Regions from separate parts of the Homo sapiens genome. Here region 1 is linked to region 2. The links come from fine-mapping of genetic effects on gene expression. A gene starts in region 2. The other region holds a variant in brackets. All regions are shown on one strand. Distances are from middle to middle. Region 1 has its middle 18 kb from the start of SPSB1. Region 2 holds the start of GPR157 (G protein-coupled receptor 157).

Region 1 (4,386 bases), 150 kb before region 2:
GGGCTCAAGACCTCTTAAAGGAGGATTTCGGGGTCTGGTGTTGTGGCCTCCAGCCCAGGGCAGCCTTTTCTCTCTCTCTCACTGTGGGTGCCCTGCATCCCTGCAGCTGCCTACATAGCAAGTGACCTGGGGTTTACGCCTTTCTCCTGACCTAAAGCTTTTCTGGGCCTCCACCTGTGCCTGGGCTATCTCGAGAGTCTTCTAAACCCTCCCTTCCTTTCTTTTTTAGGCCATTGGCTGTTATTGTGATTTAAATTATATCAGCATTTGTCTTCCATTACAAAGAAATTTGTACCTACTGGGTCATTTTATTTTTATATTTTTTCATTAGAATATTATATATACATATATATTTTATTTCAATTGCCAACAAATGGTTTTTCGTTACGTGATGAATTTTTTTGTTTGTTTGAGACAGAGTCTCACTCTGTCACCCAGGTTGGAGTGCAGTGGCGCAATCTTGGCTCACTGCAACCTCCGCCTCCAGGATTCAAGCAATTCTCCCACCTCAGCTTCCCAAGTAGCTGGGATTACAGGCGTGCACTACCACGCCCAGCTAATGTTTTGTATTTTTAGTAGAGACGGGGTTTCACCATGTTAGTCAGGTTGGTCTCAAACTCCTGACCTCAAGTGATCCTCCTGCCTCGGCCTCCCAAAGTGCTGGGATTACAGGCGTGAGCCACTGCACCCGGCCCAAGGTAGTTTTTATACATAAATAGAAATCCAAGGGGAGAAAATTCACCCTTAACAAACTGCCTTCCCTTTGGGGTAGAAGTGAGAAGGCAGACAAACCTCGGCTATGTGCCCCCCATAATTAAATTCACAAAGAGAATAAAGGAAGAGGACGATAGAGCAGCCCAGGCAATAAAGATAAAAGTTACCCCTCTGGACCTGCTCTCAGGATTGGCAGACATTGTTCTAGTCTCCTAGATTTGGTGGCAGCCAGCAGGCCTTGGTGACAACTCCTGCCCCAAGTGAATGATGTTCTCTGCTGTGGCTCAGTAGGAAGACACTTCCCCAGGGAGAAGCCAGAGCTGAGCAAACTGGATCCCAATCTTGGTTGGAGTCCTGACCTGGGGGCCCTGGGGGCCTGATACAGACTGGAGATGTAACACAGTGTCTGGCAATGGGTCGGCTGCTGGTGGCTGGAGCTGCGGGTTTGCCCAGTGTCAGCTCTTCCTCTCCCTGGAGTAGCTGCTCCTAGTGTGACCTGCTGGTTACGGGAGTGCACTAAGGGCTCGGGCAGACTCTAGCAGCGTTGCCACTTGCCAGCTGTCATCTCGGGCAAGATAGGTGACTTCAAGCCTTGGTTTCGCATCTGCAAACTGGGAGCCTCTTACCCGAGCTGTGAGTCAGCTGTTGTGGGGGTGGTGGCCTCTTACCCGAGCTATGAGTCAGCTGTTGTGGGGGTGGTGGCCTCTTACCCTCTTGCGGTGGCAACCTCCAAGCTGTGCATTTGTCCTGCAGGAGGGCAGTGGTGGCCTTCGAGATAGTGCCTTTATCGTCTTTAAAGTCTTTGGGTTAAAATGGTGAGAGCTGGCAGGGGCAGCAGAGGGTAAGGAAGACTCTTTTGAAGATGGATGGGTGAACCCCAAATAAGGGAGCAATGCAAGACTCAAGAGAACAAAAAGCATACGGCCCAGGAAGACGGGGTCTTGGTTCCTTGGTATCCCCTGGAACAGTGCCCAGCCCTGAGCCAGCAGTCAGCAGTTGTTAGGACCTGAGCCCCGCGTGCTGGGCGGTGCAAGGCTGTGTGGTCAGCCTGCCTGTCCACATGCGTGAGGGACAGATGGACAC[G/A]GCCAGAATATGGGGCAGCCCTGGCCCCAGTAAGAGAAGGACACAGAGAAGAAGGGTGCTCCACAAGCAGGAAGACAAATGAGACGTGGTCATACCTCCATCCTCCCGGACAGCAGACGGTGCCTGGAGTTTGGGCATTAGAAGTGGGAGGCAGCCAGGTGGGAGCCCACAGGAGGCAAGTCGGACAGAGCCAACAAGGAAGGAACAATGAAGGATCCTGGAGAATAGCAAGAAAAAATAATGTGCCTACAAAAATCCAGAGTTGGGGCCGGGAGCAGTGGCTCACACCTGTTAATTCCAGCACTTTGGGAGGCCAAGATGGGTGGATCACTTGAGGTCAGGAGTGCGAGACCAGCCTGGCCAATATGGCTAAACCCCATCTCTACTAAAAATACAAAACAAAACTTAGCCAAGTATGGTGGTGCACATCTGTAGTCCCAGCTACTTGGGAGGCTGAGGCAGGAGAATCACTTGAACCCAGGAGGCAGAGGCTGCAGTGAACCGAGATCGCACCACTGCTCTCCAGCCTAGGTGACAGAGTGAGTAATCTCAAAAAAAAAAAAAAAAAAAAAAAAAAATCCAGAGTTGGAAGCCAGGAAATGGGAAGTGATGGAGAATCAATGTCCGTATTTGTCAAAGTCAGTAGACACCCCCAATCAAAACTGATTCAGGGAGTTAAAAATCACATTAAAATTCATTAAGGACTTCAGACTTAATGTTTTTCCATAAACTACTTTTTTTTTTGAGACAGAGTCTCGCTCTGTCCCCCCAGGTTGGAGTGCAGTGGCGTGATTAGAGCTCATTGCAACCCCCACCTCCTGGGTTCAAGCGATTCTCCTGCCTCAGCCTCCCCAGCAGCTGGGATTACAGGCACCTGCCACCACGCCCAGCTAATTTTTGTATTTTTAGTAGAGACGAGGTTTCGCCATGTTGGTCAGGCTAATCTCGAACTCCTGACCTCAGATAATCTGCCCGCCCCGGTCTCCCAAAGTGCTGGGATTACAGGCGGGAGCCACCGCACCTGGCTTTTCATACACTTCTAATGTTAAAGAGACCTTTTGGGAAATGATATTGATTGTGTGACAAAATATATTTCTGAATGGAATGAAATTCCTTCAGTTTCTAGTAAAATTATTAATGCACTATTATTTATTAAGTATTAAGATTAAAATTAGCATCAAGAGGAGGATCCCATTTTTACGAAATATTTTGAATCTTCTATTTGCATCCGTGTCTTGAAGGATGTGCACCCGTTGTTACTGTTGTTCGTTTCTGGAGGGCTGGACGACAGTGATTTTCTTTACACACATTTGTGTACTTTTCTGCACTGTTTCAATGCATTTGTAACAAGCATGTGTGATTTTTACAAAAATATGTGTGTCCAGGTTTTTGCCATCAAAAAATATATATATTTTTTTCTTTTAAAAAAGCAAATATAAAAAGGCCTCATACAGTGAATGCTGAAGGGGGCAATCTCCATGGATTAATATTCTCATCCGAGTGCTTACTGTATTTTATTTTTTTCAGTAAAAAAATAAAGACATACGGAGTAGGAGGAGGGCCTGACTGATAGCATGAGCTTAGTTTGATAATTTTTCCTCCCAACGATGCTTCTTCAGACAAACAGAACTCATGAGGCTGGGTTTCCGCAGCCAGTGAGTGGGGACGGGGGAAAGGAAAGGGCTGTAGTGAGACCTCTCCAGGGGGACAGAGCAGCCCTAAGCTGTTGGGGGCCCCCCTGGCTGCCATCCCTGCTGCAGCGTCCAGCAGTGGGCGCTGACCGTGGCTTTGCTCTCCATCAGCAGCCAGTGGGAGCTGTCAGGAGCGGGGGTCAGACCTTGCCCTGCTTCTGCGTGGCCCTATCCCACGGTGCCAACAAGCGTGGTGGCCTGCCATGGCTGGACCACATCCATTGCACCCCTAGGCCCTGGCCACTCTGGGCACAGGAGACCCATGTGCTTAGACCCTCCCTCCCCTAGAGAGGATGACACGTGCCAGGCTCACCGCTGGCCCCACACCCGCTCAGGCCTCCACCCCTCCAGCCGCCTTGCTGACCACTCTCTTTCCTTATTGCCATTCACTCATTCATTCACTCACACATTCACTGCAGGGCGGCGTGTAAAGTGCCAGAAACACGAAAAGGAGCAGAATGTATGGAGTCTCTGCCTTCGTGGTCCTCAGCCCGACAGGTGAGTGGGAAGATGGGGGTAAGAGAGGGCATGGGTGGAGCCGCATCCCCTCCCCTTCTGCTGGGAGCTGGGTGGCGAGGGGCAGCTGGCTGACCCCACCCGGGCTCTGGCTGTCTGTAAAGAGCTTGTAAGAGACCCTGGAGAAGGTGGACTCAGGCTGGCAGCTCCTGAGCTTGTCTTCACCACGGCTTCTTTTATGATTTGCGCAACTCTTCCCCTCCTGCCCTTCCATCTGTCCCTGCATCTCCAAAACTATGGTCTATCAGGAAAACAGTTCCAATTAAGCAAGAAGAAACTGATGCTGCACAGCAGGGGCCACCCAACTGGTGTTGCCACACTGGACTGCTGAAACCCTGACCCCAAACAGAAGGATCTGTCCTCTTGGTTCATGAGAATCACC
Region 2 (4,386 bases):
CCCATCTCCAAAAAAAAAATTAGTGGGGCCCAGGCAAGGTGGCTCACACCTGTAATCCCAGCACTTTGGGAGGTTGAGGCGGGCAGATCACCTGAGGTCAGGAGTTCAAGACCAGCCTGGCCAATACAGTGAAACCCTGTCTCTACTAAAAATACAAAAATTAGCAGGTTGTGGTGGTGCACACCTGTAATCCCAGCTACTCAGGAGGCTGAGACAGGAAAATCGCTTGAACCCGGGAGGCAGAGGTTGCAGTGAGCCAAGATCACGCCACTGCACTCCAACCTGGGCAACAAGAGCGAGACTCAGTCTCAAAAAAAAAAAAAAAAAAAAATTAGTGGGGCATGGTGACATGCACCTGAAGTCCTAACTACTGGGGAGGCCAAGGTGGGAGAATTCTTAAGCCTAGGAATTTGAGACTGCAGTGAGCTGTGGTTGTACCTGCACTCCAGCCTCGGCGACAAGACCTTGTCTCAAAAAAAAGTTTTGGAAGAATGTAGAGAAATTGCGACCTTCATTGCTAGTGCAAATGTAAAATGATATGTACAGTCACTTTGGAAAACACCTTGGCAGTTCCTCACAAGGTGAAATATAAAGTTGCGTATGGCCCAGCAACTCCATTCCTAGGTATACACATAGGAGAATTGAAAACATACACCCACAAAAAAACTTGTATGCAAATTTTCATAGTGGTATTATTCTTAATAGTTAAAAAGTGTTAACAACCCAAATGTCCATCGGCTGATGAATAATAGCTAAGTAAAATGTGGTATATCCTGCCGAGCGCGGTAGCTCATGCCTGTAATCCTAGCACTTTGGGAGGCCAAGGCAGGCAGATTGCCTGAGCTCAGGAGTTCAAGACCAGCCTGGGCAACACGGTGAAACCCCACCTCTACTAAAATAGAAAAGAAATTAGCCGGGCGTGGCGGCGTGTGCCTGTAGTCCCAGCTACTCGGGAGGCTGAGGCAGGAGAACTGCTTGAAGCCGGGAGGCAGAGGTTGCAGTGAGCCGAGATCATGCCACGGCTCTCCAGCCTGGGCGACAGAGGGAGACTCCGTCTCTAGAAAAAAAAAAAAAAGGTGGTATATCCATATAATGGAATATTACGGGGCAGTAAAAGGAATGAAGCACTGCATATGCTACGATGAACCTTGGAAACGTGCTAAGTTAAAAAAGTCAGACATAAAGGCCACAGAGCATATGAGTCTATTTACAGGAAATGTGCAGAATAAGCAAATCCACGGTAGAAGAGTGGTTGCCAGGGCTGTCGGGGAGAACTGAGGGCTAACAGCTGAGGGATAAGGATTTCTTTTTGGGAGTAATGACAATGTTGTAGAATTACATAATAATGATGGTTGCACAAACTTGTGAACATACTACTGAATTGTTCGGTTAAGAGGGCCAATTTTATGGTATGTGAATTACATCTTAATTACAAAGTTTGAAATTTTTAAAGAAAAAGCCATGCCCTGCCTAGCATTTCATTTTTTAAAAATCACACCTAGTTAGCTATGGTTTTTAAAAAATAGCATGCTTATTTTAAGAAAAGGTGGAAACGCCGGCTTCCCCAAGTCACCACCAACTTGTGAACACGTCGGGATCACGGCTGAAGGAATGAGGATCATACCCGAGAGCTGTTTCTGTTGCTAGTGGAAAGAATGCCTCTGATCCTCACGCCCTTCCACTCACAACACACACAGAAGCTGGCTGAAAAGAGGGAAAGTAATATTAGCCCTAAAAATGCCAGCCCTTCCTCTCACAGGACTGGATGTCCCAGACACCTGGCAAGAGCAGGGGTGGGCCTGGAGGAGCGTGGAGGGACAGGTGCTGGGACCTGGGGGTGCCCTGAGGTAGGGCTTAGGGACCTAGGGGCTTAGGGGCGTGGTGTGAGGGCGTGGGCGGGGCTCAGGAGCCTCGGGCACCGGGTGGAGCTTGGAAGCCTCAGGGGCGTGGCGGGGGCGGGGCTCAGGGCCCGGGGCAACGGGACGAGGAAGGGCACCTGAGCCAGGGTCAGGGCCCGGAACACAGGGGTGTGGCGGGGTGCGTGGGCGGAGCGGGGCGCGTGGGTTAGGCTCTAGGCCCAGGTCTCTGGGCCCTGTGGACAGGGGATCGGGGCGCGTGGGCGGAGCTCTAAGTCCCAGTCTCAACGCGGGGGCACACGGGCGGGGGGGGGGCGTGTGGGCGGGAAGGGCATGTGGGCCGGGGGACGTGTGTCCGGGGCTCGGATTGTGGGCGGGGCTCAGGGCCTGGGACGGCGGGACGGGGCTGGGAGTGTAGGCGGGGCTTAAAGGCCGGGGTACCGGGGTGGGGCGCGGCGCGTGGGCGGGGCTCAGGGCCCGGGATATAGGGGCGGGGCGCAGGGCGTGGACGGGGTTCAGGGCCCGGGGCCCAGATGGGCGGGGGAGCGGCCGGACGCGGGCGGGGCGGGCGCCTGGACGCGAGCCTAGGGCGCCTCGGTGCCCAGACGGCGGCGGCGTGGCCGCACGCGCGGCCCGGCTTCTGTCCTCGCGGCGCTCCGGCTCCTGGCCCCCCACGCCATGCAGCCGTCCCCGCCGCCCACCGAGCTGGTGCCGTCGGAGCGCGCCGTGGTGCTGCTGTCGTGCGCACTCTCCGCGCTCGGCTCGGGCCTGCTGGTGGCCACGCACGCCCTGTGGCCCGACCTGCGCAGCCGGGCACGGCGCCTGCTGCTCTTCCTGTCGCTGGCCGACCTGCTCTCGGCCGCCTCCTACTTCTACGGAGTGCTGCAGAACTTCGCGGGCCCGTCGTGGGACTGCGTGCTGCAGGGCGCGCTGTCCACCTTCGCCAACACCAGCTCCTTCTTCTGGACCGTGGCCATTGCGCTCTACTTGTACCTCAGCATCGTCCGCGCCGCGCGCGGGCCTCGCACAGATCGCCTGCTTTGGGCCTTCCATGTCGTCAGGTGGGTGGCGGTGGCGCTGCTTTTCCAGGAGCCCCCGACACAGGCCGACCCCTCCCGGTCTTGCCCTCCCAGAGGCCGCGTCTAGGTTGGACACCCCCTACCCACAGCAAGCAGTGCCTGCTGGCGCCCCCGAGGCTGTCCTGGGCCAGCGGGAGGAGGCCAGCCTTGCCCGAGATTCGCTCCCTCCCGAAGGAGCCCCGCTGTGCCTGCCCCAGGGCACAGCCCCTTGGGGTAGTGGGGACAGAGTTCGCCCCCAGAGCCGGGCCCTGTTTCCTTGGACGGGGCTGGGGAGGACACTCTGAGCCCCTTGTGACCTGCTTCACTGTGTCCTGGCTGTCTCTGCTGCCCATGGGGAAACAGGCTGGGAGACGAGTTAGGTAACTGTCCCGGGCTGGAGAGCCGGCAACTGCCAGTCCCACGCCACCACCCCACCCCAAGCCACAGTGAGCTTGGTGCACTCCGCCACTCCCGAGCTGCCGTGTCTCTGCTGTACAGTTTACAAAGGACTGTGCTTTTTATTCTGTCTTTGGTCGTTTCTAGCCTCAGGCCCCAGCCCCTTGTATTTCTGTTCTAGATGATCTTGACTTTCCAGAGTTCAGCAATTCTGAGATTGAGGGCAGGGGCGGAGGGCTGGTCTGGGAGTCTCGGAGTCCTCCTGGAGTCTCTCTGAGAGTGGGGAAAAGCCAAGACCTTACTTTGCGATTCAAGCGTCTTTCAAGTAAGCCTCGCTGAAGAGGGTCGGCCCTTCCCTGGGGAATGTCAGGTTTTGAAAATCTCATGGCGTCCTGTGCTGTGCTGAACTGAGGGCAGGAATCCTAGGGGCTGTTTTCCTTTTCTCCTTCTCCCAGATCAGAGCATCAGATACTGCCCTAATTATAGGTCCTTTCTATTAAAAACTTAAGTGCATTCCAAGGACTGCGAGCACAGTCAGCACTTTGGCAGAGACAGGTCACCTGGGTGTCACACGGCAAGGCTACAGGGCTGTAAGAGTCGCTTGACCTTCAGTTGTGCACTGAGGCCGGCTGGTCCTTGAGAAACTAAGTGACCTGCTTCTCAGCTGTACAAGTAAAAAATCTTTGCAACACATCATCCAAACCGAGGCTCAGATGCTGCAGATGGAATAGGGCCCTGCCTTGCCTTGCCTTCCCGGCAGCATCCCATCTGACCCTGTCTGGGTCCCGTGATGGCTGGCTGGGTGTGGGCCCCGAGTACACGGGAGATCGTGTGTACTTGGAAGGAGTCGAGGCTGTACCTCTCTTTGCAAGAACCTGTTCTCTTTCCCTTCTTGTCTTTAAAAATATTGAATACAGTATTTTTTTAATGGTAACAGAACCTGGTCCAGCTTCTGTGGAAAAGAAGGATTGCCCAGCAAACCTGAGTTGGGGGTTTTTCTGTTCGGTTCTCATTACGGACCCTCTAGGGGGGTTTCTGTGTTGTTCAGGAAGGGCTTCTTTGATAAAGAAGTAGGC

The links. PIP is the estimated chance that this variant, and not a neighbour inherited with it, causes the effect.
Region 1: its variant is the best candidate, but not a certain one, in a credible set for the expression of GPR157 in whole blood (TOPMed, PIP 0.54).

Annotation. Positions count from the first base shown.
Region 1 is chr1:9,272,692-9,277,077 of GRCh38, reverse strand. No RefSeq gene overlaps it. Among named protein-coding and RNA genes, the nearest start is that of SPSB1, 18 kb to the left of the region's middle. The variant G/A (reference allele first, on the strand shown) is at 1,798.
Region 2 is chr1:9,127,176-9,131,561 of GRCh38, reverse strand. GPR157 (G protein-coupled receptor 157) reads left to right here and starts at 2,460. Exons shown (of 4, transcript NM_024980.5): 1 at 2,460-2,917. The coding sequence starts at 2,535. RefSeq lists enhancers at 583-672, 963-1,082, 1,103-1,172 and silencers at 1,874-2,193, 2,254-2,603.